Homo sapiens: one gene and its partners. The protein of the gene in region 3 interacts with the protein of the main gene of each other region in a pairwise test. Each region holds a gene or a part of one and is shown on either strand. Other genes may lie near its edges.

Region 1 (7,023 bases), on a different chromosome or scaffold from region 3:
ATATCCAGCCAGATGATTTTGAATCTTGATACTGCCATTGCTATGTGTTAGCTATCTTCCCATCCCATCCTTATCCCCAATTTTGCATCCACTGCACATTGGATTAGTAAACCATCTCTGTCCTCACTGTGCTGTGGTTTAAAATATTGAAGAAAACCAGGCCTTAAGCATGATGGTGGAGACTCAGTCTGGGTTGATAATGATCAATACCTCCTAGGGTTGTTTGTCTGCCTTTGAATGGACCCAATTAATCCTGGCTCCACTGACATTTCTGTGTCTTGTCCACATGAATTTCTTTAATCCCATCTGTTAGCTGCCTTGCTGATATCTAGATGGATTACATTCCACAGAACTTCAAGGCTTTGCAACCCTTTGAAAAGGAGATGCACTTAGCTGAGCATGACTTGTTCTGGGTGAATCTGTGCTAGTTTCTAGTGCCCACTACTTCCTCTTCTGCATGTTCCAAACATTCTCCTCTCCCCATTTTGAAGTTTGCAAGAGTTCAGGTTTGTTTTCTGAATTTCTAGAATCCACTCTTTTCCTTTTTGTGAAAAATGGGAACAGCTTGTCTTCTGACATCTTTCCTGTTCCCCATGATTCCATGGGGATGACCAGAGGTGGTGCTGCAGCCTCACCTGTGATCAGTGATTCAATTATCATTTCAAGATGTTCTTGTATGTTCTTATATACTCTTTTCTTGTAGGCCGGTCCCATTCAAGATCGATATCTGAGGTAGCAAAGGTAGATGCCAAAGGAGAGCTGGGTGGTTCCGCTTTCTCTGCCATCTGTTTAACATTAACGTGGCCCTGGTACTTCCTCATTCTCTTGCTCCAAACAGATTTGATGTTTTCAGAAACCCATTGGATGGTCCTTAGTATTTGTTTTAGCTCTCCTGTTGGCCTGTTAGTATCTAAATGTCCTTTAGCCATTTCACATTGAAATGGTCTGGCCAGCTAGACAGAGAGCTCTCTGAGGGCAGGGGCTGCCTTGGCCAGAGTTTGATGCGATGGTCCCCACTTTCCACTTTGATGCTGCACAGCCTTCGTAGCCTCGGAGATGCTGTGAAATGCCGGAGGAGGCAGCGCAGTGAGCTGTGTGGTTTGATGGTCTGACAGACAAGCGTGCCATCATGGAAAATTCTTTGCAGAGTGTGCAGATCCATTTACGCAGGCCGGCTGCTGCTTCTGCAAATTACACTTTCCTTCAGAACAACCCACCCATGCCCTTTTTTTCCCACCAAACCTCAGTCATGCTCTGGGTAGGTTAGAAACAAGGTTTTTTTTGTCTCCCTCTGTTTCCATCCCTCACTCTTCTGTCTCTTCTCTCTCAGTCCTTGTCTTGGTTTTTATAGGCAATTTGGCTGAATGCCTAGCTTCTGGTCTGGATGGCCTACCCATCTGCAGGCGCTCCTTGGGGACAGGACTTGAGCCCCAGATTTAGAGTCCCTTCTTATGTGACTTCTGGGGTCCAGGCCCTGCCAGCTGATAAAGCCCCACAGATAGGTTGGAGCCAGTGGTGATAGCAGAATTGGGGCCTAGTCAGATGGAAACAGGTTTGCAGCTGTCAGTATTGTAGGAGTAGATAAGTTCCCCACACCTCTGCCCCACCGCTCCTCGCACTCTCCAGGGGGACATCCCATCCCCAGGTGGCCTCTCACCTGCTATCCACAGTTACTGGAAGCTCTTTGGGGATTGATAGCACAGTTATGAGTCACCCTGAAATGTACTCACCCTCTGATCTGTCCCTTCCCAGACAGCTGCTCAGCCCAGGGCAGAGAGAGAAAGGGCTACAGGGAAGGGAGGGAAGTGAGATCCCACAGGGGAGAGGGTACATTAGAGTCCTAGGCTGGGGGAAAGGAGGACCTGCTGATTTGCATGCCCTCCGAGGACAAGTCAACAGGGCACTGAGCTGACCTGAGCAGGTATCCTACAGTAGGCTGAAGGGTATATGGGGGGCCCCTCCCCAGCCAACCCTGAACAAGGACCTGGTCTCTGCAGGTAGAACACCCTCCATGGAGGGCTGGGTGAGGCACAGGGGACCTCCTTGTGTGTGTCTGCCTCACATGTGCTTTTTTTGAGAGGCAGAATTAATCTAGTGCAGTGGTTCTCAAAGTGTGGTCCCTGTCCACAGCATCACCTGGGAACATGTTTAGAAATGTTCCTTCTAGACCTCCTAAATCAGAAACTCGGAGTAGTAGGGGCCAGCAGTCTGTTGAACAAGATTTCCAGGTGATCCTGGTGCATGCTAGTAAGTTGGAGAAGCATTGACTCAGTGAAAGAATGAACTTTGGAGCCAGATTGCCTGGGTTCATATCTTTACCTTGGGTAAATCAGGTAACCTCTCTGATCCTCTATACAATGTTTCATCTGTAACATGGAGACACTGCCACCTTCTTCTTGTGATGACTAAATGAAAATGCTTACAAGGAGTTTAGTGCAGTTCTGTCAATCAGCATCTGTTAAGTGTGGCCTCAGCTCTGACCTTTACTGTTTCTCATTTTAGGTGGTATCTGATGCTGCAGGACAGGGTGTGGCCATCACAGGGAACCAGACCTTCAACAACTGGAACTGGCCCAATGCAATGATTTTTGCAGCGACCGTCATTACCACCATTGGTAAGTCTTCTGGGACCTGTAGGACACCCACATCCATGCCCTAGCTCCTCAGAACCTTTCTAGAAACCCAGCTCTGGTCACTCAGCCCTGTTGGGGGTACAATCAGATCAGTTGCAGGCTATTCTTTTGATACTTTCTTAGGGATTTGTTAAGTCCTTGGTAGCTGATCATGCCTGGGAAGGTTTCCTTGAGTCTTGACCTGGGCTCTTTGAGCAGAAACAATGACACAGCCTCATGGCCAGAGCCATGCAAGAGATTAACCAGACTGCTCATTGCAGAAACCCAGATCATGACTACTTACCAAGCTGGGTGTCTGTTTCAGTTCTCAGGCTGCATAGCCAACCAGTCCAGAAGTTTGGCTCAGAACGCAGCTTCTTCTCTTTCACCATTCTGTCAGCTTGACTGGGCTCAGCTGGCTGGTTCTTGCTTGGGCTCCCAATGCAGTGGCAGTCGAACAATGGCTGGGCTGGAGTCTTCTGAAAGCCAAACTCATCTGATGGCCCAGATGGCTCCTCCCATCACAGATTTGACAGTTGATGCTGGCTGTTGGCTGGGAGCTCAGCTGGGGATGAAAACACAAGGCCTCCGCATGTGTTTGGGAACCAAGGCGAAAAGCAGCAGGCTTCTTAGACCTCACCTGTCCAGCGTCTCTTCCGCTGCCTAGACTGCTTCTGTTGTCAAGCCACTAAAGCCCAGATTCCAAGGGAAGAGGATTAGATGACACCTTGATGTGAGCAGTTGCATAAGAAGGGAGGGAATGGAGGATGGCTATCTTTGGAGACCATCTACCACAGTGCTTCTGGGGAATCTACACAGAGAGCATGTCTTATAACTTGCACAGTGGTACCATATAGACTAGTGGAAGACCTGTTGACCAGGCTTAGTCCCTGCCTTCAGGGAGCTCCTTGTATGATGGAGGAGATACAGCTCATGTCATCATAATTGCTTTATCAATGATCATGATCAGAGTATGATCAAGGGAAATATCATTACTTAAGTACTGACAATAGATCAATATCAATTTATCTTAGAGAACGGGCTGTGTGTGTGTTGGAAGCAAGGCCCACTGGTTTGACCACCCCTCCTGTTCTTGGCCTCACTCTCTCCTTCCTCAGGATATGGCAATGTGGCTCCCAAGACCCCCGCCGGTCGCCTCTTCTGTGTTTTCTATGGTCTCTTCGGGGTGCCGCTCTGCCTGACGTGGATCAGTGCCCTGGGCAAGTTCTTCGGGGGACGTGCCAAGAGACTAGGGCAGTTCCTTACCAAGAGAGGTGTGAGTCTGGTATGTCCCCTACCCTGGGTGTTGGGCAGAGATGGGGGAACCATGACAGGTGAGGGGAGGACAGGAGGCCTCTAGGAATTGGACCAAGGGTGTAAGGACAGATGGCAAGAGGATAGTTTCAGAGCTCCTTGCCCTCCCGGGTCAGGCTGGGTACCCAGCTAGCTTCTCCTCTAGCTGCCTCCCTGGCCCTCTGGGTGCCTTTGCTGGGTTTCCAAGTCTCCACTATTCTCTGACTTGGCCTCCTGCTCCCCATCAGCGGAAGGCGCAGATCACGTGCACAGTCATCTTCATCGTGTGGGGCGTCCTAGTCCACCTGGTGATCCCACCCTTCGTATTCATGGTGACTGAGGGGTGGAACTACATCGAGGGCCTCTACTACTCCTTCATCACCATCTCCACCATCGGCTTCGGTGACTTTGTGGCCGGTGAGTCCCTGCCTCTGCCTCCCACCTCTTTTTCTGCTTCTTTGGTTTCAGTGCAACAGACCTATGTTGGGGGTGCCCTAGGTAGGGTTCCATGTTCTGGGCACTTCTCTTACCCAGTGGGATTCTCAACCCACTCTGCCATTTGCAAGAGGAAACTAAGACCCAGAGTAATGACAAAAAACTCTTTTCTCTCTGGTTCCCTTTCTCAGACATGGCCTTTTTCCTCCTCCTTTCCTCTCTGCTCAGTCTCTGATCTCCTCTCCCTCAGTTCTCCCATGACTCCTGAGCTTGGCTTCATGGGGGACTTGCAAGTAGGGCCTTCTGCCTGCACGGTTGGTACCTGCTACCCAGGGAGCCCCTGAGCCCACCAGCACCCACTCCACGCCCTCAGCAGCCTTTCATCTTTCACAAGAGTGGAGGGAGGTGTCCTGAAGGCATGGCTCAGAGGCCTGGGGCTTTGTTCCTGCTGTAGCAGCTTAAAGACAAGGGAGGCCTTCTCCCCAGCTGCCCTGCCCCCAGCCCTGACACTCCCTCCTACTCCTCCCCTGCTTAATCCAGGGAAGTGATGAGGTTCTTTGGCCCCTTTGTCTGAAGGCCTGTTACCAGCTGGCCCCAGCCACACATGTACTTGTGTTTGTGGCCTGCACAGCATCTTGGTTCTTAATCTTCTTGACACCCTGTTTGACCCTGTTGACCCACCACCCCAGTGACCTCAACTTCTGCTCCAGAGGCCTCTGTTCTGTACCCCCTCCCTTTTGCCCAGAGGGCAGTGGGAGGCCACTAGCCTTGTGCTTGATGTATGTGGCATCTGGGAGCAGTTGGCTGAGTTGGGGGAGGAACAGGAAAGAGAGGCACAAACACTCCCCTGACCCTGCCAAGTCCGGGCCTGCTGTCCTGGGCAGTACATGTGGACAAGGCACAACCCTGCCATTGTCCAGCCCTTGAGGCCCAGAGCAGGCTAAGGAGGTGCCTCTGGTATTAGGGAAATACAGATGTACACTTAGCCATACTTTCTCAGCACCAGCAAGACACCAAACCCTGCCTCAGCTTTCTCTTCTGTAAAATTAGTAAAAATAATAATTACTATTCATGAGTGTTAAGGGTAGGGCCTGGCTATATCAGTGTGTGCCCTCATTACTGTCATCATGAAACTCTGCTTGTGATTGAGAGCCTTGAGCAGGATTAACAGGACCACTCAGGGCACCTGCTATCTGAGCCCGGTCGTGGGAGGAGAACTGACCGGGCTACAGCACCTGGAGGAACCTCTAGTCTGATGAGAGAGGTAGCCCCCTTCCTCCAGGTCCCTTCTGTAAGTTGCTCTTGTATCTAGTCGAGGGGGCAAATGGAATACAGGTCAACATGCCTGTACATGTAGTCGTCAACGACATTTCAAATAATCCTGGAGTGTAGGGGGAACCTTCAGAGCTGTAGGGGGTAAGCCAAGAAGGCTCCCTGCAGCAGGAGGGGGATGTGGAGCAGACAGAGCCCTCCTCCAGGTCAAGGGAGAGCTGATCTGAGGAAGTCAGGGAGGCAGACCAGACCTTCAATGAAAATAAAAATGGTTCAGCGTTTCTTGCCACGGTGGGTGCTTCCTGGGTCATCTCAACCTAACCACCAGCCTTGTTTGTAATCCACCAGTGTGAGTCTAGCCCCAGCTTGGAGGGTGCTGGGGGCTCCCTTGTGTAATATCCATCCATTCCGTTTTTAAGTGAACTGTATCATATACGCAGAACAGCTGGGGATGGTAGAAGAATTAACAGAAAGGCAAATACTCATGAACTGTTTCTTGACCTGTGTGTCGGTTACATTGCCAGTCCCCCAAAGCCCCTTTAGCTTCCTTCAAAGAGTCACTGTCTTGACTTTTTTTTTTTTTTTTTTTTTTTTTGAGACGGAGTCTCTGTCTGCTGCCCAGGCTAGAGTGGCAGTGGTGTGATCTTGGCTCACTGCAACCTCTGCCTCCCGGGTTCAAGCAGTTCTCCTGCTTCAGCCTCCTGAGTAGCTGGCCCGCCACCATACCTGGCTAATTTTTGTATTGTTAGTGGAGCTGGGGTTTTACCATGTTGGTCAGACTGGTTTCGAACTCCTGACCTCAAGTGATCCACCTGCCTTGACCTCCCAAAGTGCTGGGATTGCAGACGTGAGCCACCATGCCTGGCCTGTCTTGACGTTTCTAGTTGAGGAAACCGAGACTCAGAGACAGGCTGGAGACTGGGATGGGGTCATGAATGATGGCAGGCCCAAGCCCTTGAGGAAGATGGGATAGTCCAGGGTCTAGAACAGGCCCCTTTCTATCCCACTGCACCCCCGTCCTGTGCTCTGGCCTGACCCCTGCTCAGATCACACAGCATTGGCCATTGCACATTTCCCGGGCCCTGCTAACTCTTCCTGACCTCTGGACTGCCTGTCCGCTCAGGTGTGAACCCCAGCGCCAACTACCACGCCCTGTACCGCTACTTCGTGGAGCTCTGGATCTACTTGGGGCTGGCCTGGCTGTCCCTTTTTGTCAACTGGAAGGTGAGCATGTTTGTGGAAGTCCACAAAGCCATTAAGAAGCGGCGGCGGCGACGGAAGGAGTCCTTTGAGAGCTCCCCACACTCCCGGAAGGCCCTGCAGGTGAAGGGGAGCACAGCCTCCAAGGACGTCAACATCTTCAGCTTTCTTTCCAAGAAGGAAGAGACCTACAACGACCTCATCAAGCAGAT
Region 2 (7,023 bases), on a different chromosome or scaffold from region 3:
GCCTAATGTGTGTGTTAGCTTGAGAGCCTGGGGTTGTAGAGCAGAACTGTTGGCTGCCTTGCCAGGGAAAGGCCCTGCTTTCTCCCTCAGACACCTGCACTGCACCAGGAACTACATCCACCTGAACCTGTTTGCATCCTTCATCCTGCGAGCATTGTCCGTCTTCATCAAGGACGCAGCCCTGAAGTGGATGTATAGCACAGCCGCCCAGCAGCACCAGTGGGATGGGCTCCTCTCCTACCAGGTGTGTGGTGCATCCAGGACCGCCTCAGGAGGGATGGGCGGTTGGAGGAGGCCTGCCTCTGCCACCCTAGACAGGCCTGGGACAGGAGAAGACAAGAGCCGAACAGTCCTGGCCCTTCGGGAGCCCCCAGTCTGATGGGAGAGGCAGTTCGCCTTGGGACCCTCCAGTCTGCTGAGAGAGGCAGTCTACCTTAGGGAGCTCCCAATCTAAGGGAGGAGACACTGCCCTAGGGAATTCTCAGTCTGACACAAAAGAGTAGTCTTTGGAGACACACTTGAGTTTGAATGTCAGCTCTGTCACTTACTATCTGTACACTTTTAGGCAAGTCACTTACTTCTCTGAGGCTGAGAAATAGGTGAGAAGTCACTTACTTCTCACCTGCAGGGGGATACATTACTTTCTTCCAATCAGGATAGTGAGGATTCAATGAGCTAAAGCAGATAAAGTCCTTAGCACTAGCCCTAGCCAGAGATGTGAGCTCTCTCCTCCTGCATTAACCATGGCAGGATAGTGGCTGGAGCAGGACGGGGAGTGGTATCAAGAGAGGCAGAGGGCAGAGCTGTTGTCCCCATGACACCCTTCCTCTACCCCCAGGACTCTCTGAGCTGCCGCCTGGTGTTTCTGCTCATGCAGTACTGTGTGGCGGCCAATTACTACTGGCTCTTGGTGGAGGGCGTGTACCTGTACACACTGCTGGCCTTCTCGGTCTTATCTGAGCAATGGATCTTCAGGCTCTACGTGAGCATAGGCTGGGGTAAGAACCGCCATCACCCACCCTGGACCTGTGGCACGGGGGTGGGAGACCTTGACCCCTCTTCTAACATGGTACTTGGAACGCACTGCTGAGCAAGGGGCAAGGCCCACTGGGTAACCCTCTTCCTGGGCACAGGACCTTCTGCCCCGGTGCTGTTAAGATGCCGTAGGGGGTTATGGTCCTCCCCTCCTCTGCATAACTCTCCTCCCTTAATGGAAGCCTCCACCGCATGTGGCCAAACACCACCCTCTACCACTATCATGCACACCACTGGAGGTCATGGCACTGTTCTCTTAAGACCACATGGGGACATAAGTTCACACCCAGTCCCGGGCAGCCCGAGGGCCTGAGGGAAATGGTGAGTCCTGGGCCTCAAGGTGGGGAGGGGATCAAGAGGGTAGGGGGCTGGCTGGGGGGAGCCTGCTGGTGCTCTGTCACATGACGATGAAGAGGAGGGCTCAGAGGAGAGCCAAGTACAGTGGGGCAGGGGGGCCAGAGGCCAGCCAAGGAAAGGGTGGACGGCGGATGTGCCTGGAGCCCAGCTGGAAATGTTCTAGCCAAAAAAGTTTGCCAAGAACCATTGTGTCTTTTTTTTTGCTGGAACATTTCTGGTTGTGCTTCTGCCTCTCACCACGTGGGATTGTAATGAGGGGCAGCATTGGGGTTGGGAAGGGGGCTGGGATCCCCTTCACCCCTGGGAAAACATGCAACAGGCCTTTCTGGAGGGACCCACGGTACCCAGAGAATAGGCCCTGCCCTCTGTCCTCCCTAATCTGCCATTGAATCCATGAGTTTTCCTGTTCCACACCATCCCCCGCCCTGCTTGCCACTCCTTCATTCACTCCTCCTTCCTTCATGCGCCCACCTCACGCTGCTCTGACCACGGCTGCCCCTGCCACGGACCTCCGGGGACTTTCCAGCTCAGTCACATCCAGACTCCTCTTCCCTGACAATGGTCCTGTCCCTGAGCCTTTGCAAGGCTGTTCTCCATGCAGGAATGTTCAGGGAGCATCCTTCCCACACCAGGGTGTCCGCTGCCTCTTCAGGAAGCTGCCTCAGGCCACCAGTCCTCGTGGTTCTGTGCTCTCTGCCCTCTCAAGCTCTCCATCCCCTGTCCTTGCACTTCATTTATTTTTACTGGTGTTCCTCAGCCATTTTTCTCTATACAGCTCCCCCCACCCCCCAGGAGAAGAGTAGCCTGAGAGATTTTAATGTGACCAGTGTCTTGAGGACACCAAGGCCCAGAGCTGGCAGGGCCTTACAGGCAGAGCAGGCCCTGGAACCCAGGCCTCCTGACTCCCAGGCTCTGGGCCTGCGGCCATCATGCCCTGTTCTCTTGCCTGGGCTGCATCCCTTCAGTCCCCTGCAGCACCCCTGAGCAGGCTCAGGCCTCTGCACAGGTGGGCAGGTAGGCCTGGCTCCTGCTCACAGATCCCTGCTCCTCACCTGCCTCCTCCACTCCCAGAACCCAGTCCCTTCCTTGGCCTTTTCTCCCCGAGGCTTCTTCCTCCTGCTAGAGCAGGAGGAGGGAGGCCATCGAGGGCAGCTCAGGGAAGGCTGTCTTCAGGGTGGGGGACGGTGTCTGTCCATTCTAGGAAATAGCATCAGCGCTGTTAGTGCCTGTCACCATGGCGACCCGAGGGCAGGAACAATCAAGGGACGTGTGTGATGTGTGCAGAGGAGCGGGGGTGGCTGGAGTTTGGTGGGGACACACTGCCCTAGAGGTCTCTGAGTGGGAGATGGGGGAGGGAGTGCCAAGTCCTTTTCCTACCACCTCACACCCTAGCTCAGGGCTCGGGGTCTGTGGGAGCACAAGGGCAAGACCCGGAGGACACCCTGCTCTAATCAGAACACCTTTTTCTTGAGGATTGGGGTGGGGGAGACGGAGAGAGATTCACAGGTTGCTAGGAGCTCAGACGTGATGCCAGGAGGCCTTGCCCAAGCTGGGATACTTGGGAAACAACTTTCAGCTTCATGTGCAAGTGGAAGAATTAAAATTAGGACTCTGACACAGTTGGAGAGGTCCCCCAAAGGGCATGGCAGCTTCTGCTGCAGTCCCCAGGCAGTTGGGGGCCTGTAGAAACCCACATGGAGGCTGTGCAAGAGGGAGGCAAATGATGGTTGAGGGAATCATTACTTCCTGGAGCCAGTTGTGTGTGTCTTAATTTGAGCTTTTTTCTCCAACCTGTCTTGCTCGTTTTCTAAATGGGAGAAAGATGAAGCCAGCAGGGAGTGCGTAATGTTTGCATGCAGCAGGGCTTTCGTGACTGTGTTTTTTGAAAAGGCCTTGTTAAGGAAATGCTGACGATGAGTGAAACTTGCCAGGTCTGGCTGATAACATGGGTGAGTGCCCTGATCCTGGAAGGAGGTCTCAGAGAGAAGGGACAGCAGGGGGCGAGGGATACCCAGAAGGAAGCTTCTGCATGTGTACGTGGTTCAGGAAATCGGCATGCTCTTGCCCAGACAATGTTCCTTCCCTTATTGGTGTGTTGACTCACCCATCATTCGTTCCATTCTCACTGGGCATCTTCTATGTGGCAGGGCCTGTACCATGTGCTGGGGCCTTTGGAGACCATCCCATTCCTTGTCCAGTCTCATAAAGGCCTGTTACTAAAGCACCGTAGATGCTGAGAGGTCCGATTTGTGTAGAAATCAATGGGCCAGGAGAGAGAGAGCTGATGAAGAATGCTGGTCCGCTGGGGGCTCCTTTGCCTCCTCCATCTCTCCCTGCATCATCAGGCACAGTAGATCTGGGCACACAACCTGCTTAGTAGCTGCTGTTGAGTGGACACTGATGTGCTAAAGACATAGACAATGGTGACAGGAAAGGCTATGAAGTGGTTCTGTCCTGGAAATGTGCTCCAGGCAGAGATTCCCAAAGTCATACGTGCACACTCATGGTCCACCCACCACACCCTCACACACACATGTCTACATACCTTAATATGCACATGCTTACCTATCTCAGACACATCTCCAACACTGAGGGAGGGGCCAACGGAGACGAGCATGGAGACAGCCAGTGCAGAAGGCCATTGAGGGCGGTGGGAGTGGGTATGGGATTGCAGCCCTGAATTCGAGCCCCACCTGTGCCCTTCTGAGTCCCTGATCCATCTCCTCATATGTCATGTGAGGAAGGAAAATCCAATTTTAAATCAACCAACACAGACCCTGAGCTCTCAGGGTGATCTGGGCATTGAGGCTCTGAAGGTGAGTGAGGCCCAGGCTCTACCCTCAAGGAACTGGGAACCAGTTGTATTAATTCTCTATTGCTGCAGAACGATTAACCCTGAAACTTAGCTACTTAAAACAACGAACCATTGTTATCTCACAGTTCCTGTGGCCTGCAATCTCGGTTCAACTTAGCTGGGTACCTTGTGGCTCAGGATCTCACAGAGAAAACTCTTTAGGCAAGAGCATGTGGATTTCCTGAATCACATACACATATAGAAACTTCCTTCTTGGGCATCCCCCACCCCCTGCTGTCCCTTCTCTCTGAGACCTCCTTCTAGGATCAGGGCACTCTCAGAGAAGCAGCCAGCTGTCACCAGGGTTGCTGTCATCTCAAGGCTTAACTGGGGATGGAGAATCTACTTCCAAGCTCATTCAAGAGGCAGTTGGCAGGAAGCCGCAGTTGCTGGCCAAAGGCTGGAGGCCTCCATTTCTTGCTGCAGAGACCTCCATCTAGGCCTTCTGAGTTCTCTCAGCACATGGCAACTGGTTTCCCCCAGAGCAAGTGATCAGAGAAAGAGAAAGAGAATGCAAAACAAGCCACAGTGTCTTTTATAACAATCAGAAGTGACATGCCATCACTTCTGCCAGAGGTTCCTGGGTCACATGAAACAATGCTGATACAACGTGGACTAACTACCCAAGGGTATGAGCACAGGAGGTGGGGATCCCTAGGGGCCATCTTAGAGGCTGTCTACTACACAAGTCAAGTCTCAGCCGAGTGGAAAGTAGTATTGTTGTAGCTGTTGTTATTGTAGGCCACTGCGGACAGTTAGTTGGTCAGCTGGCATCAAGGACTGGGCTCCTGTCTCCATTCCAGGATTCTGCCGAGCCCTCTTGAAGGTGCACAGTGGTAGGGAAGAGATGACTGAAAGGACATCCAGTGCCTTTAGGAGTTGACTGGCAACGTGGGCTGAAGCAAGAGAGAAAATGGGCATCAGAGGGTTCGCCTGCTCCTTGCCTCATCCGTCATGCTGTCCCCACCGCATGGCCCAGTCCCGCTGCTGTTTGTGTGTCTGTGGCCTGGTAACTTAGCCGGGACTCTGAGGGCAAGTCCTGACAGTGTGCCTGGCACACAGGAGGTGGGGGACTGATGACTGATGAGGACCTCTCTGTAAGGAAGAGTCTGGGGGTCCGCATGGGGCTCCTGCTGCCTCTGTTCTCCCAGGTGCCCAGAAAAAAACTAGAAAACATAGTTGGAGGCCAGGCAAGGAGAGGGGCTGGAAGTGTGAGGGGCTTGGGGCAGGGAGAGGCCTCGGCATGTAGACTGTGGCTCTGGCCTGCCAGCCCCTCTCCCCTTCTGTCTTTCCCTCTCTCTTAGGTGTTCCCCTGCTGTTTGTTGTCCCCTGGGGCATTGTCAAGTACCTCTATGAGGACGAGGGGTGAGTGTCCTGCTCCAAGGGGGCGGGTGTGCCCAGGTCCCCATCCTCAAGGTCCATGGGATTCCTTGGTACCTGGGGCACCCATCTGTTGAGAGGATAAAGGGGGGTACCAGGAGCTTAGAAGGTGAATTTAGTTCTCTAATCTCCCCTCCCTGCCCCTGCCCCTGCCCCTGCCCCTGTCCCAGGATTGTTTGATGACTAACGGAACTGGGTCTGTGGGGTACATGGTGCCCTCCTGCAGGTTTTTCTGTAATATCTGCAAGTGAAATGTTTGTGTCATTTTGTATATGATGCTGGGTACACACATGACTGTGTTGGTAGGTCCTTGAAAGCTTGTTTGGGGGCTGTGTGCATCTCTGTGTATGACTGTGTATTTGGACTATGCGTGTGTGTTGTGTGGCTGTGCACTGGCAGGGCTCTGTGGGTCCATGGGACTGGTTTTTGGGTGGCTCCTGGGAGCTGTGTGTGTGGCACTCAACATGGCCATGTGCATTGGCGGCCTCTGTGCCTGCACCTGAGCTGGGGGTCCTGTGAGTCCTGCTGGATGCATGTGTGCATCTCTCTCCCTCCCCAGCTGCTGGACCAGGAACTCCAACATGAACTACTGGCTCATTATCCGGCTGCCCATTCTCTTTGCCATTGGGGTGAGTGATGGTGTCAGGGATGGGAGTGGCAGCTATGATAGGGCTGGGCTGGTGCCCCCTGCCAATCCCCGGCCCCACCCCGCAGGTGAACTTCCTCATCTTTGTTCGGGTCATCTGCATCGTGGTATCCAAACTGAAGGCCAATCTCATGTGCAAGACAGACATCAAATGCAGGTGATGTAACTGAGCTGGCTTTACTGAGGACCCTCAGCAAGTGCCCCTTTCCTTCTAGCAGAGAGAGAGAGAGAGATCCTGGGATGCTTAGCTTAGAGCCCTACACTACCCTCTCCTTCCACCCAGGCCTGGCCTTGGACCCCAAACCCTTGCTTTTGCCCTGTCTCTGGGCAGCCCCTGGACTTGTTGGGGTCTTGACCTCTATTCTTTCCCTCCAGGCAGCCTGTCCCAGGGTATTTGGGGTGGGAGAACATCCATGACCCAGATATCAGGACTTGGTAGGAAGTGGGGAGGGTAGAGAAAGGGAAGAAGAGTCCATGGGAGAGGTCCAGAATGACTCGAGATCTCTGCCCTGCCCCTCAGACTTGCCAAGTCCACGCTGACACTCATCCCCCTGCTGGGGACTCATGAGGTCATCTTTGCCTTTGTGATGGACGAGCACGCCCGGGGGACCCTGCGCTTCATCAAGCTGTTTACAGAGCTCTCCTTCACCTCCTTCCAGGTGACTTCATGCTTGGGGACACTTGCTTGTAAAGTCCTAGAGTGGGGGTGGGACAGACACCAGCCTGCATCATGCAGATGGAAAAGGTGGGA
Region 3 (7,743 bases):
AACTCTTTGTAAATGATGATTTTAAATGTTAACATAACAATCATCAATACTTTTTTGGGACTCATGATGTTATATTTTCTTTGACCTTTGAACTCACATGGAAACTGTAATGTATGCACATTGGAGCAGCCTCAGCCTTTCACATGTGCTCAATATTTTTTGATTGAATAAATGAACAAATAATGCTAAGAAAGAAATGTTAAAAGGATCCTGTTTCAGAATGGATAGATGCACCTTTCCCTTTAGGAAGTTAAAGTAAATGTGGTTAATTCATTATTGTGGTTCATGAATCTTTTAGGTGGACATGTGAACCATGGGAGATTACAGGAGAAACTGATCTTCCTCATTTTTCAGACCAGTAATTCCAGTTCTACTATGCTTCATTTCTGCCTCATCAATATATCTAACTCTTAATATTTTTTGTCAGCTCTCATTGTGTTCATTTATATCACTATATGAATGAAAAATTAGAATCATTGGCAGATAGAAACACAATATAGTTGCATTTTAGTTAAACAACGTTGCATTCATTCCTGGAGCCTAAGACTTGTCCTCTCTTTGTTAGAAAGGGAGATTATAAAGGGTAAAAAATAGTAAAGACGACTGGGCACAGTGCCTCACACCTGTAATCCCAGCACTTTGGGAGGCTCAGGTGGGCGGATTGCTTGAGTCCGGGAGTTTGAGACCAGCCTAGGAAACATGCCCAAACTCTGTCTCTACTAAAAATACAAAAAATCAGCTGCGTGGGGTGGCACACTTGTACTCCCAGCTACTTGGAAGGCTGAGGTGGGAGAATCACTTGAGCCCAGAAGTTCAAGCCTGCTGTGAGCCAAGATCTAGCCTGGGCAAACAGAGTGAGACCCTGTCTCAAAAAAAAAAAAAAAAACAAAAACAAAAACAAAAAAAAACAGAAAAGAAAAAAGAAAGACTTATGTCTACCAAAATAAGATCTTTTTCTTGATAGATTGATAGATTCAAAAGGATTGAAGGAGAATTGAATGGGAATGACATTCTATGTTGTGGAAAGATATAGCACATCTGTGTAGCACCAGAGCTTGTCCCATACTTGAGAAATTCTGGTCTAGTCCAGCTTCCTGCTTTATACATGAGCAAAGGGAGGCAGAGCAGTAGAATGACTTGCTCAATTGCAGAATGGGTCCTGTCCCCATGTCCCAGCATTCTTTCCACTGCACTCTGGAACTTTGATGCCTAACGTCTCTAGTTCAAGATCGATGGCCGCATGAAACAAGAGAGGAAACAGAAGTCCTGAAGCAGAGCCTGGTGGAAGCCAGAGGCGCTGGGCCTCAGAAATAGAGAACATGGAAGTGGTGTGAGTGAGGAACCTAGAAGCCTACTGGGGAGGGGAGGATACCATCTTTTGTCCTGTCCCAAGTCCCCTTTGCAGATGAGGCAATTCAGGGCCAGAAAAGGGAAATGACTTGTCCAAGTTCTTATGGCCTCTCAGTGGCAGAGGAATGCTGCAGCTTCATCTCTGCCTTCCAGGCTTGCATTCTGTATATGGGACCCCTCTGAATCTCCAGTTCTGACATCCCTGTCGGTTTGTAAAATCTAATACAATATTCATACCCTATAAGTATGAGGGCTATGGTATTTTGGAAAATTATTATTATTTCACACTGGCAGGAAAAATCACAGTTTTATCCCTTCACCAGCTGCTCCCAGAGTCCTGGCTGGAGCTGATAACTTGTCTCCATCCCCATGCTGCCCAGCACAAAAGCACAGAGCACCCTGGAGTAATTCTAGTAGCTGCCCCCCATGGTAACTCACCGCAAATCGCTTCCCACAGCCCTCGTTGCCGCAGCACCCACAGCAGTCATTGTTCTTCAGGCCCAAGAACACCAGCGCAGGGAAGATCATCTACCAGGAGAAGAGGCACCTCAGAGAGAGTCCAGGAGTTGAAGGGAGGGCCCGAGCCTGCCTGACTGTATAAGGAGCCCCATCCACAATGAGGGATTTGGAGGCCCAAAGGGAATGGCAAAGTAACAGAGCATGGCTGGAGGGGTAATGGAGTGTTATGGAGTACTTAGATTCCATTTGGGCTGACTAACCAGCTTCAATGAGGCAAGATTTCAAAATCTGAGTTTCCATTTAGATGGTGTGTTAGAAAAAAGAATAACAAACTTTTCCTCAATTGTCATGAAGAGTGAGTCTCTCTCCCTTTCACTCTCTCAAACGGAGGTTCCCAATTCTATTGGAAACCAGAGGTAAAGAAATCATTAGGTCCTAAGTGGAAGACGACCACACTGACAACAGCTTCTCATGGTGGTTTTAAGTCAATTTGCTTTTCTAGTGGGTTTGCATCGTGGGTTTGTTGTTGTTATTGTTTTGGGCACTATCTTGTTGGAATCAAGAAACTATGCGACCTTCACTTCGGTTCATGGGACTCAAATGACCCATGAGAACTGTCAGCCCAAGCTTAGAGATTAATTACTTAGTAAATTTAGCTGACGTGTCCTTGTCAGATCCTAACAGAAACGAGAAAAAAATTAAGGCATTGACCTCTCACCATGCAATGCTTGAGCTTCTATTACCAACTAAATATCTCCCTGTTCAATAAGTACCTGATTTAAAAAGGATTGTGGGGAAGGGAAAATCTCCCTTAGGGGGATTTTAAGCTTCCCTACTCACCAAGACACCGCTTCCTAATATTCCTCCGAAAAACCAGATCTCTTGGGAAAGGTGGTCGTTGTCATCTATCACTTTTCCTCCAGGAAAAAATAACAGGATGTTAGCCAGGAAGCCAAAAAAAGCAAGGGGAATGAGGGTCCCCCCCAGGCATCTGGCACAGCCCCCAGTGCACATTCTGGGGTGGTACGACACAGGTCAGCAATCAAAAGCTCCTCACTGCCTCCTTCACGGGGCCTCTTCAAGGGTTTTTGGCCAGAGAGTCCTTGTAATTGTCTCCAATTCAATCAGTATTTTGGGGCTGAGAACCAAATTTCTGTGAACTGTGTCCTTGGAGTTGCTTCAGCTTCTCAAAAATAGCAGAACCTCGATGGCAATGGACATTTATACATTCTCCCTGACCTGAAGTGCTTTGTTTTTTGCACCCCCATAAATGAGATTACGTTCAGAGCAATCATTCAATCGTTTTGCCATGGAGACCAATAACCTCTGTTAATAATCCACCAGCACAGACAAGACACTCACATTGTTGCAATCGAAGACAGGGCTGGAACAAACAGCATTTAGAACCACTGCACCTTTAATCTGACAGTGCCCATGCCCAAATAAAGAAATATTTTCTCCAGACTCTTTATAAATCACTAATATAATTGAGTTACATCCTGGTTAAAATCATGTCTCCCAAGTACTTAATGGTGTACAGTGCGTGTCTTTGTCTTTTCCACTGAAAGCCTGGAATTCAGGGTTATCCAAAAGAGCTTCTGTTTTCCTCAATATCAAAATAATTTGATGGTCTAGTTGTGTATCATTGAGCTCAGACTTAAAAGAATTGTTTAAGGCAAAAAGCTACTGTTCATTTTATTGTCTGATTGCTGTGTTTCTCTACTTGTTACGCAATTAAGTAATTAAGTTCTATCTTTTCCCTACACGATGTGATGGAATTAGCAAAAACAGTTTTCCTAATCAACTTTCTCAGCTATGTCTTCCATATAGGAATAAAGAAACCATCATCCACTAAGGCTAAGGGGAAAGGAAGGTCAGCATTGGTAGAGAGGGAGAGAAAAGGTCCTGATGAGTTGACTGGGGAGAAGACACAGTTGGAAGAGCAGTTATAGAGTGCAGGAGGCAGTAAAACACACCCCTATTAGAAAGTTTGCCAACTGCCAGGGGCATGATTCATTCATTTGCTTTGTGTCACTTAAGAAGTTCTCTGCCACGCCTGGACCAAGCTCTACATTATGCGATGGCCCTGCCTGGTACTGGTATTACATAACAGCTGAAGGATTAAGAGGTGGAACTGGAAGTCTTACTAGTTCTTCATTGAGAATCTAGAGGTTAAAATAGGTCGAATATTTTAGGGAGTCAAATTTTAGCTAAATAAAAAGCAAGTGACATTATTACCATGGTAAGACCTGTCCTACCGTGGAATAGGCCACCTGCTCACAAGGAAGCCATGGACTGGGCTTTGCCAAGGCTCAGAGGCCCTTGGAAAGGGAAGCTGTGGGAAGGATTCCAGAAAAGTCAGACTGGAAAAATGTTGAGGCTCCTTCTAAAATTTCTAAGAAATGAGTACTGGTTGCTTTATAAAGATACTTAGAAATCTCAGGGTCAGGATGAGAAAGAAAGCAGAAAAACAGCAAATGTTTATTGAGCCATGCATAATACTCCAAGCACGAATGAGCACCTTAAATGTTCTTCACCCTTCTGTGAAGAAGGTGTCATGCCCCCTTCACAAGTGGGGATGCTTCTGCTCAAAGTGATTTTTGCAAGCTCATCTCAGCATAAGAAGAAGAGCTAAGATTTTATTTTTTATTTATACATACTATTTTACACATTTATGGGGTACGTGTGATATTTTACATGTGTAGAATATGTAGTGATTAAGCCAGGGTATTTGGGGGTATCCATCACTGAATATTGATCATTTCTATGTGCTGGGAACAATTTAAGTCCTCTCTTCTAGCTACTTTGCAATCTATAATACATTATCACTAACCATGGTCACTTTACTGTAATGTCAAACAACAGAGGTTATCCCTTTGGCTAACTGTATGTTCATACCCATTAGCCTACCTCCTCTCCAGCTCTGTGTTGCCAAAACCCAGGCTATGTTCTCTCTCATAGATTTTCCTTTTTGAAAACAAACAAACAACAAAACATCATCTTTTAAATATAAACAATAGAATGACACTGTGTGTGAGGTATATGCACACAGTAGGAGACCCTTCTGAACACAACAACAAACTGTGATTTTATTCCTTATTACAAAATAATGTGACTTTTTTTGGTAGAAAAATTGGATATACAGACAAGCAAAAGGAAGAAAAAGAAAACCAGCTGTGTTTCCACCAGAAGCAAACAAGGGCTGTCATCACTGTGCTGACAGCTGTTTTCCAACACTCCAGGCAGGTGCAAATGAACTTTATTTATAACCCACTGGCTTCTGACAGGGAGTCTTGAGCATATGAACTCTAAAGGCAACAGTCCTGGGGGTGAGTGGATTGGGTTAATCAAATGCATATGCTACTTAGAGCTAGGCAGCTTCTCTCTGGGGACTGGGCAGCTTTCTCCTTTCTCCCTGGACTACACCGTTTGCTTCTAGAAGTTACCATCATGGCATTTGACCAACACTAGCCCTGTTGTCCTAGATTTTTCAGATGCACAACTGGAGTTACCCATGTATACTGTCTGAGTGACTAGATGAAAGTAAGAAATATTGTGGACCACACTTCAGTTTTCTTTCAAGCCTGAGGTAACTTATTTCCTGGGTAGAGGAAGAGAAACACTGAAAAACAGTCACTTTCCTGGAATGCCCTGACCACTTCAGACTTCAAACACTTGGATAGTGACTAACTCATTAATTGTTCAATTATTAATTGTGCCTTCAGACCTCCAGGCAAGAAGTAGAATATCTAATCTGGAGAGAGGGAATCGTGGGGGGGATGGGAACCTTGGTGAAATTCACTCTCTGGAAGTGTAGCAGGGAGGTCACCAACAGACTGCTTTGGGGGCAAGGGAAAATTGTGTGAGATTCTGGGAATCATTTTTGTGATACTCCTACTTGATAGTTTATTGCTTATTCTGTTCCTCTGGGTGTTTAGCAGTGAAGGCTTTAAACCAAAAAGGCTAACTCCCTTGTTTTCAGAAACAGCAAGAAGGAAGTGGCTGAGGACACTAAGCCCCATTCTGTCACTAGCCTTCTATGGAGACTTCAGAAGTGAGAGCAAATAGTAGCCCTGGAAGGGATAGAAAGACAGGAGGGATCCTTGGGGGAAGAAAAGGAGAAGAATGTGAATATGGGCACTATCTCCATGGACCTCACCGGATGTGAGGTTTGACCATACGGGACTAAGCAGCAGGAAGTCTAGGGGTTCCTTCCAGTGATGCAGGAAGTCAATTCCTCAGCTAACAAGCACAGGAGCAGAAGACATTCACCCTGAAATGGGTGAAGAGCTGTCAATTCAGTGCAATCGATAAGTGTATTGTTACATGCATGGTATGTCCACCAATGTGCCAAATACTGTCCTTGTGAATAAAATAAATCTAAGACTTGCTTTCTGCCCTCAATGATGTTACAACCTTCTACTTGTGACAAGAGACAAGAGAAGCCATACACAGAGGTTAAATGAGTAACTGCCCCTTAGCAGAAGAACAAGACATGGCTTCTTCTGCTTGTCTTAAAGCAGAGCATTCTCATCTATTCACACAGAATATCAGGAAGAAGACAGGGGTCTCCACACATTTGCATTCAAATAAAATTCAGGTCTTCATCTTTGCTTACCTGGATGATGAAAATAGATTGTTAAAAGTGATTTTCCAAAGGAGGAAAAAAATAATAGAAAATATTAGTGGGCATTGCATGTAATAAGAGCCATTTTATGAAATTTTTGTTATGTGTGCATAGATGTTAGGTAATAATGCAACATGTTTTGCTTACTATAGGTCTTCAATCAAAAAATAAAGATCAAATCAGGTAGTGAAAGTTAGTGATCTTTATAAAGTGAGAACTAGTGATCTCTATAAATGCTAAACTGATATTACATTTTTGCTGAAAGCCTTCAGGAGGCTTCCATGGCCCTCAGATCTTAAACTTAGTCCTCCCTGATTTGTCTTCCAGCCAGATCAGCCCTCCTGTCTTCCTGCTTCCTGCTCTGCCCGCTTCTCCTGCTTTCCTGCTACACCCCTCCAGGACTCAGCTCAGTGGTCACTTTTTCTAAGAAGTCTTGTTTTATAAGAAAACTGTTTTACTGTCAAGATATGTTTGGGAAATCTGAATAACACAGAGCAAAATAGGGCTCTGAATGAGAACTTTTTAGGGCCTTTAATTTGCAAGTGCATGTGTAATTATTGGAGAGCTGAGAAATATAGTACCCAGCGTTTTCCAAGCTTCAATGCCTGCAGAACCCATCTTTTGTATCCTGTAGCTGGCAGGACCAGGATTTTCCAGAACATCCTTTGGAAAACTTGGAGCTTACTCATTTCCCAAGTGCTTGTGATGGAATCTGTGTTGGCAGAGAGAAAGTGAGGGGTGATTTGAGACAAGGAAGTATAACAAGAGCAAAGATGGAAGATGGGATGAAGCACGATTTGGGGAGATTGTGAGGTGCCAAGTTGGTGAGCTGGGAGCAGGGTTGAGAGCCAACTTGGCCTCCACGAACAAAGAAATGTGAAATATTTTGTCTAAGGGAAGACAGTCACTATTCTCTAAGAGCTCTGACGCTTCATGACTGACTCCTCCATGCCTGGGCCACTTCAACATGAGTGTTCCCTAAAGCACCGGGGTCCTGGGAGAGGCTGAACTACTAAAGGGCCACATGGTCTGGAGAACTAGAAGAAACAGACCTCCCTCTCAGATGTCTCTATCTCACTATCTAGAGTTGTCATCGAGCTCTATAGAAGCAAGCAATTACATGACATTATTGTCCCTATTTTAGAGATGAGGAAACAAAAACAAGTGGTAAACACTGTTCTGGTTATCTTTTTTTTTTTTTGGAACCGGGTATCACTCTGTCACCCAGACTGGAGTGCAGTGGCACAATCTCAGCTCACCAAAGCCTTCACTGCCTGAGCTCAAGCGATCCTCCTGCCTTATCCTCC
Region 4 (7,331 bases), on a different chromosome or scaffold from region 3:
TTGCCTGGGGAAAAATGAACACCAGAGGTGGACCAATGACCAAAGGCAGAAAGGTTCCTGAGATCAGATTCCTAATGCCATGATGAAGCTTGTAAAGGCTTTCTAGGGGCAGGATACAAGTGATGAAAGCTGGAGGTATGTTAGACCAGCCAAGTGTAGCTTCTGCAGTAGAGCTTCATTGACAACCTTAGAAAAGAACAAACTGTAAAAGATATCTATTTATTGTAGGCAAAATACATTTTTTGGAAATTGGATTTCAGCCATGCCTCAATGACTTCCATGAGATTCCTAGTGAGGCTCTGCCCATGTCCTGTAATTAGGATTCAAAACAGACTCCAACATCCTGGGAATGATTGCTTCCTGTTCTTCCTGCTTCCACTTTTCCTAACTTCAAATATGAACTGCTTGTAGCAACACAGAGAATTCACTCAGGTGTTTCAGTTACAAATCTTGGCTCATAGAAACAGCTGTGCTTAATAAATGTCTTTCCTTTTCTTTTTTTTTTTTGAGACAGAGTTTCACTCTTTTCAGCCAGTCTCGAGTACAATGGTGCGATCTCAGCTCACTGCAATCCCTGCCTCCCGGGTTCGAGCAATTCTCCTGCCTCAGCCTCCCAAGTAGCGGGATTACAGGTGCCCACCATCACTCCCAGCTAATTTTTGTATTTTTAATAGAGACGGGGTTTCGCCATGTTGGCCAGGTTGGTCTTGAACTCCCGACCTCAGGTGATCTGCCCCACCTTGGCCTCCCAAAGTGCTGAGATTGCAGACTTGAGCCATTGTACCCAGACTGTCTTTATTTTTCTATAATCATACTTTTTTCTTTTTCTTTTAAAATTTTTATTTATATATAATTGTTTATATTTTGGGAGTACATATGATGATCTGATACCTATATACAATGTATAATAATCAAATTAGGGTGATTAGGGTATCCATCAACTCAAACATTTATCTTTTCTTTGTGTTGGGAACATTTCAAGTAATCTTTTCTTGCTATTTAAAAATATATAATAAATTGTTAGCTATAATTTACCTACTGTACTATCAAATACTAAATCATTTATTTTATCTAACTATACTTTTGTACCCCTTAACCAACTTCTTTTCATCTCCTCCTCCCTTCCCTTCCCTTCCTAGCCTCTGGTAACTACCAATCTACTTTCTACCTCCATGAGATAAATTTTTTTTTAGCTTCCAGATATGAGTAAGAACATTCGATATTTGTTTTTCTGTGCCTGGATTATTTCACTTATAATGACCTCCAGTTCCATTCATGTTGCTGAAAGTGTCAGATTTCTTTTTTATGGCTGAGTAATATTCTATTGTGTATATAGACCACATGTTCTTTATCCATTTATATGTTGACAAATACTTAGGTTGATTCTATATCTTGGGTATTACAAATAGTGCTGCAATAAACGTGTGAGTGCAGATATCTCTTCAATTTACTGATTTCCCTTCTTTTGGATATATCCTCAGCAATGGAATTGCTGGATCATATGGGAGTCCTATTTTTAGTTTTTTGAGGAACCTCTATACTGTTTTCCATAATATCTCTACTACTTTACATTTTCACAGTGTACAAGTCTTCCTGTTTCAACACAACCTTTCCAGAATTTGTTATCTTTCGTTTTTTTTCTTTTATAATAGCCATTCTAACTCAGGTAAGATGATATCTTATTGTGGTTTTGATCTGCATTTCCCCGATGATTAGTGGTGCTGAGCATTTCTTCATATAGCTATTGGCAATTTGTTTGTCTTTTTTGAGAAATATCTGTTCAGGTCTTTTGCTCATTTTAAAATCAGATTATTTGTTTTTTTTGGTATTGAGTTGTTTTAGTTCTTTATATATCTTGGTTATTAATTCCTTGTCAGATGGATAGTTTGCAAACATTTTCTCCCACTCTGTGAGTTGTTTCCTCACTTTGTTGAGTGTTTCCTTTGTTGTGTAGAAGCTTTTTAGCTTAATGTAATCCCATTTGTCTGTTTTTGCTTTGGTTGCTTGTATCTTTGAGGTCTTACCCCCCAAAAATCTTTGCCCAGACCAATATCCTAGAGCATTTCTACCATGTTTTCCTTGAGTAGTTTTATAGTTTCAGGTCTTACATTTAAATCTTTTTTTGTTTGTTTGTTTCTTTGTTGGGTTTTTTTTTTTTTTTTGGAGACAGAGTCTTTCTCTGCCACCCAGGCTGGAGTGCAGTGGTGCGATCTCGGCTCACTGCAACCTCCGCCTCCTGGATTCCAGCAATTCTCCAGCCTCGGCCTCCAGAGTAGCTGGGATTACAGCTATGCACCAGTGCAGTGCACCACCATGCCCAGCTTATTTTTGTATTTGTAGTACAGACAGGGTTTCACCATGTTGGCCAGGCTGGTTGCGAACTCCTGACCTTGTGATCCGCTTGCCTCGGCCTCCCAAAGTGCTGGGATTCCAGGTGTGAGCCACCGTGCCCAGCCACATTTAAATCTTTAATCCATTTTGGGTTGATTTTTGTATATGATGAAAGACAGAGATCTATTTTTATTCTTCCGTATATGGATATCCAGTTTCTCAGCGCCATTTATTAAGAGACTGTCCTTTCCCCAGTGTAAGTTCTTGGCATCTGGTTTCTCTGGGTTCTCTACTCTGTTCCATTGGTCTGTTATAATAATTGATATTTTAGGTTCCCATTCACATAGATGTCAAAAATTTAATTGCGGCTAATTCAGGATTCACATTTTACCTTTAGGCTTGTGCCTAACCTTAATTAACAGTCCCAATGCATTGGGAAGGTCCCTTATGATCCCTGATGTCATCTATCCTCACAGGCATCCTCTAAAATATCAGTCCCTCTGTCTGGTCCTTATTTGTGATTCTGTGCAGCCTGCAATGGAGACATCCTTATTCCTATCCACATGGCTCTTCAGGCATGACAGCTTTTTCTGATACTTCTATGCTTCCCTTGGCCCCAGGAGTTATTCTCCTCTTCCCAAGATGTGCCTTCTTCTGTAGAGTCCCTTTGCTTCCTTGTAGCTCTAGCCAAGAAACAGGACCATTTGATTTTGGATCCTATAATATATCTAGGGGATCTCAGGGATCAAGTGAAGAACTGACTATAACTACAGTTTTCAGTTTTCCCATTTAATTCTCATCCTACCCTCATAGGGTGGGAAGTGCTGGCTTGTACTCAGGAAGCAACCTCTCAAACTCCTTGTCTATGCTACATGTCTCTTGATAGTCTTCCTATTAGCACAAAATGGGGTGAAGGCTAAGCTGGAGAGGGGAAGGGGAAACTAGAAAAAAATTAGGTTTTTTTTTTTTTTTTGAGATGGAGTGTCATTCTGTTGCCCAGGTTGGAGTGCAGTGGTGTGATCTCGGCTCACCGCAACCTCTGCCTCCCAGGTTCAAGTAATTCTCCTGCCTCAGCCTCTCAAGTAGCTGGGATTACAGACATGCACCACCACACCTGGCTAATTTTTGTATTTCTAGTAGAGATGGGGTTTCACTGTGTTGGCCAGGTTGGGCTTGAACTCCCGACCTCAGGTGGTCCACCCACCTTGACCTCCCAAACTGCTGGGATTACACATGTGAGCCACCATGGCCAAAAATTAGTATTCAAAAAATATTATCCTGCATCTTAAGTAAGTTGAATATGAAGCCATGGGAACTGAGAGAACAGGTTGTTTCTAAAGAGAAATTATCCCAAGAAAAGAAGGAAAAAGTGAGAAAGAATTAAGAGATGGATTGGGAACATTATTTTATTAGAAAATCAGTGACCATTCCTACTTTTATGACCCATGTCCCACCAGTGTTTGCTTGATGGGAATTTTTAGGGATGAGATACATTGCTATGTTACTACTCTATATGTGAATAACCGGTGTGCCTGATTTCTAGCACATTAATGGATTTTATAACTCAATAAATTATAGGCACTCAATAATTTTTATTAAATGAGTGAATGATAAAAAGCAGTGGACATAACTGGATATATTAAAGCAGCATGGGGCTATATGAGAGGAGGAGTTTCATAAGATCAAGATTAAAAATTAATTTGATATATATATTTTTTGCTTAAGTGGTGTTTACTAGTCTAAGGACCAGTACACATACATTAGAGAATGTATTCATTAAGAAGTCTCAGCCAGGCACTTAATTGTTGACACAGGAAAAAAAAAAAAAAGCCAACAAACCAACTCCGCAGAGCTGTGTTAAAAATACTGGACTTTCATCCCTTGATTGGAGGTATTATTACAGCATCAAGCTGACCTGCAATATGGATCATTGAGATCAAAGGCTATAAATTATAATGTTTGCCTTTAAAGAAGTCAATTCAACCCTGAATGTCATAGTTAGCTACTTTCAACTGGAAGCTACAACATGGATTTATGGAATCTGTCTTGGTTTCTGTTCTTGGATGCTCTTCTCGTGATTTCTGGCTTGGTAAGGAAACAGTATATAGAAGATAATTTAAAAATTTTGGGGCAGTTGATATTGATTGTTAAAGAACAAGTGTTTTTTTTTTGTTTGTTTTTTATACATCTTGAAATGTTGATCTCAAATGAGTGTTTCTTCTTGGAGATTAGGGGTGGGCAGTGTGTAGGGAGTGACAAATAGCCACACCAGAGTAGAGACATTGATATAAAGTTATGTTTTCCTTTCAGTTTCATCATTGTGTAACAAGTTTTCTTTTGATGAGATTATAAATGTGTATTTTGAAAATCATTCCATTTTTACTGCTGAATGAAATGCAGATTGCTGCACAGTAACTTGAGACATGAATGAGTGTCACAGGCACCGTCAGTACTTACAAAGTTTTATAACGTGGTATTTCTCTTATGCTTCTTCATCAGTTTAGACTCATCCTTCTACAGTTTGGACTAATCTTTTCTATCAGGTAGTTTGTATCACAAACCAACCCAAGGTTTTAAATGAAGTTTCAAATGGCTAGTGGAAAACCTTCAGTTGTTATTTTAAAATAACAATTATTATATTGGGGTGATATTCTATGAATAGGAACTAGAACATTGCAAACAAGAGATACAGATGAATACATGTTAAAGTGTAATTAGGAATAAATCCTTGATAATTTTATTCTGTAGGTGCACTGGCATTCCTCTATGAGTGTATGCCTGTGTGTGGTTATAGTGTGAAACATGCAAAGCACTTGTTAATGTCAAAAATGATGGTAACCATCCATCCAGTTCATTCCCACATTTTGTTAAACGCTCCAAATGATTCTAGTATTTAGATATGTAAGCTGTATTTGAATAAAATTGTACTTTACACTTTTGTGACAATTTATTATAGCTTACAATGAGCCTTCTTTCACATTATATACTGTAACCCTCACAATACCCATGCAAAGCAGGTACTGACCATATCTTATGGATAGTCTGAGTACCTGGAAGGTGAACTGAATTACCCTTAGTTAGTAGAACTGGTAACATAACCCAGACAGTCCTATGAGCTTTTTAATTCAATCACACTAAGACATTTCTCAGGTTTACTTAGTTGTTTTTTTTTTTTTTCCTTTGGACATGTAGTCTGAGTTTCATTGACCATTTGTGGAGAATCTATTTTCAGAAAAAAAATTAATCACAAAATGTACCCATTGTTTTTCTTAAATATTTGTATTGTCTTTGAAGGCAGAATTATTCTGGGAGAAACATGAATGCAAAATAACTTGATTAATGAGTCTTGAATAACATTTCTTTTTAAAGAATTGTTATAAATTACAGTATTATTTCAACATTGAGAATAAATTATTTGGTTTTTCAAACATTGCTCCATGAATGCTTTAGAAAATCGTGTGTAAAGTGAGCACTTATTTGAGAGCTAGAGTCTTATGTTCTGCCTTTTCCCCCCCAATTTTTGAAGTTGGTTTCTTGTTTCCTTCACCTTCAAATTGATTTAACAGGCAGTTTCATTTTCCATATGAAATGAGAAGACCCTTTGGTCAAAAAGTCATCTTAAACTTCAATTTAGCCATCCTAAATACATGTCAGGAAGTAATCCATAATATTAATGACAAAACAAACAAACAACAAATGGTTAGATATAAACTGAATCCAAGAAGACCATTCCTGGGCATTATAATAATATGTTTTGTTTATGTGTTTATTTCCCAGGCAACTCCAGAAAACTTTGGTGAGTCTATTTTGAGTTTTGTTCTAGGTTATAGAGAACCTAGGACATATTTAATGCTAAACATCATACATAATTACATATGCATAATTGATGCATAATTGCATTGAACTTTGATCTAATACTGGATTCTTTTGATTTATGGAGGGACATTTTATTGTCCATGTTCCAGGCTTCATATGCCCAGCAAAGAAATAGATGGTATAGGAAAGGCCAAGCACAGTGACTGACACATAGACATCCCATAAATGCTTGCTATTATTGTTTTTGTTATTTTGTGTCAAATCAGATGGACCTAATAATAACAGTCTACTCAGTATTCACTTGCATACTCGGAGATTTGGCCATATTATATACACCTTTACAACTTAAAATAGTAATTCAAGTTTAACTTAAGAATTTTGCTTGAAAGTTCCAAGGTATACTACTAGCAAGTGATATACATGTATGAGTAGATTGGGCTAGTTTGACCAAATTTAATCATTTGTTTGCTATTTAATCTAGTCTTCTAGTCTTTCAAATTATGCTTAATAATATATGGAGCAACCAATTTCTTATTCCCGAAGTCATTTGACATTCAAGGAATGTCGATAGGACAGAATACATACATAAAAGCTCTTTAGAGCCCAACCTGGCTCATAGGAGATTCTTAATCAATCAATCAATCAATCAATGTATGTTGAGTCTGAATCTAGTAGTCACCTGAGGCCAAAAGAAACTTGCTTAGTTCTGATTATATAAATGATAAAGGTTTTCTCCTTTTATAAACATAATGTTCAATTTTTTGTTGTTGTTGTTTTAATCAAAGATGTAGATGGCGGAATGGACCAGGACATATTTGATATCAATGAAGGTTTGTGGATTTTTTTTACATAATCTCTTAAGTAGAGAGTTTGAATCCAATTTGCTAACATGAATTTTTATCTTTACTCTTAGGTTTGGGACTGGATCTTTTTGAGGGTGACATCAGACTTGATAGGGTGAGTTGAAACAGTATAAGGAAGAATCTTCCATTAACCACTGCAAGCCAAATTCAGAGTAACTGAGAAAGATTAGACAGCATGAACTTTGTTAAGCCTAACTATCTCTAAGGGTGCAGAATCATGGTGACACATTTATTCAATGAATATATTATACTCAAAGAAATGCATATAATTGTGTCTTCATCTTTCATTACTCATATTTCTGTGTGGTTCAAGCCACCATA

What was found.
Region 1: the proteins of TM4SF4 (region 3) and KCNK5 interact in binary tests that used the Homo sapiens proteins (3 or more experiments, as listed by UniProt).
Region 2: the proteins of TM4SF4 (region 3) and GLP1R interact in a protein complementation assay, tested with the Homo sapiens proteins (one study listed by BioGRID).
Region 4: the proteins of TM4SF4 (region 3) and MEP1B interact in a protein complementation assay, tested with the Homo sapiens proteins (one study listed by IntAct).

What each region holds. Positions count from the first base shown.
Region 1 is NC_000006.12:39,191,467-39,198,489, reverse strand, and holds part of KCNK5 (potassium channel subfamily K member 5), read left to right. Parts: intron 1-2,502; coding exon 2,503-2,614; intron 2,615-3,729; coding exon 3,730-3,896; intron 3,897-4,152; coding exon 4,153-4,321; intron 4,322-6,734; coding exon 6,735-7,023. UniProt on the Homo sapiens protein: K(+) channel that conducts voltage-dependent outward rectifying currents upon membrane depolarization. Voltage sensing is coupled to K(+) electrochemical gradient in an 'ion flux gating' mode where outward but not inward ion flow opens the gate.
Region 2 is NC_000006.12:39,072,772-39,079,794, forward strand, and holds part of GLP1R (glucagon-like peptide 1 receptor precursor), read left to right. Parts: intron 1-90; coding exon 91-244; intron 245-838; coding exon 839-998; intron 999-1,542; exon of another isoform or gene 1,543-1,610; intron 1,611-4,758; exon of another isoform or gene 4,759-5,142; intron 5,143-5,550; coding exon 5,551-5,611; exon of another isoform or gene 5,612-5,696; intron 5,697-6,125; exon of another isoform or gene 6,126-6,185; coding exon 6,186-6,255; intron 6,256-6,340; coding exon 6,341-6,429; intron 6,430-6,792; coding exon 6,793-6,931; intron 6,932-7,023.
Region 3 is NC_000003.12:149,469,958-149,477,700, reverse strand, and holds the start of TM4SF4 (transmembrane 4 L6 family member 4), read right to left. Parts: upstream 3,005-7,743; 5' UTR 2,824-3,004; coding exon 2,650-2,823; intron 1,879-2,649; coding exon 1,789-1,878; intron 1-1,788. UniProt on the Homo sapiens protein: Regulates the adhesive and proliferative status of intestinal epithelial cells. Can mediate density-dependent cell proliferation.
Region 4 is NC_000018.10:32,185,714-32,193,044, forward strand, and holds the start of MEP1B (meprin A subunit beta isoform 1 precursor), read left to right. Parts: upstream 1-4,325; 5' UTR 4,326-4,357; coding exon 4,358-4,420; intron 4,421-6,108; coding exon 6,109-6,127; intron 6,128-6,932; coding exon 6,933-6,977; intron 6,978-7,060; coding exon 7,061-7,104; intron 7,105-7,331. UniProt on the Homo sapiens protein: Membrane metallopeptidase that sheds many membrane-bound proteins. Exhibits a strong preference for acidic amino acids at the P1' position. Known substrates include: FGF19, VGFA, IL1B, IL18, procollagen I and III, E-cadherin, KLK7, gastrin, ADAM10, tenascin-C.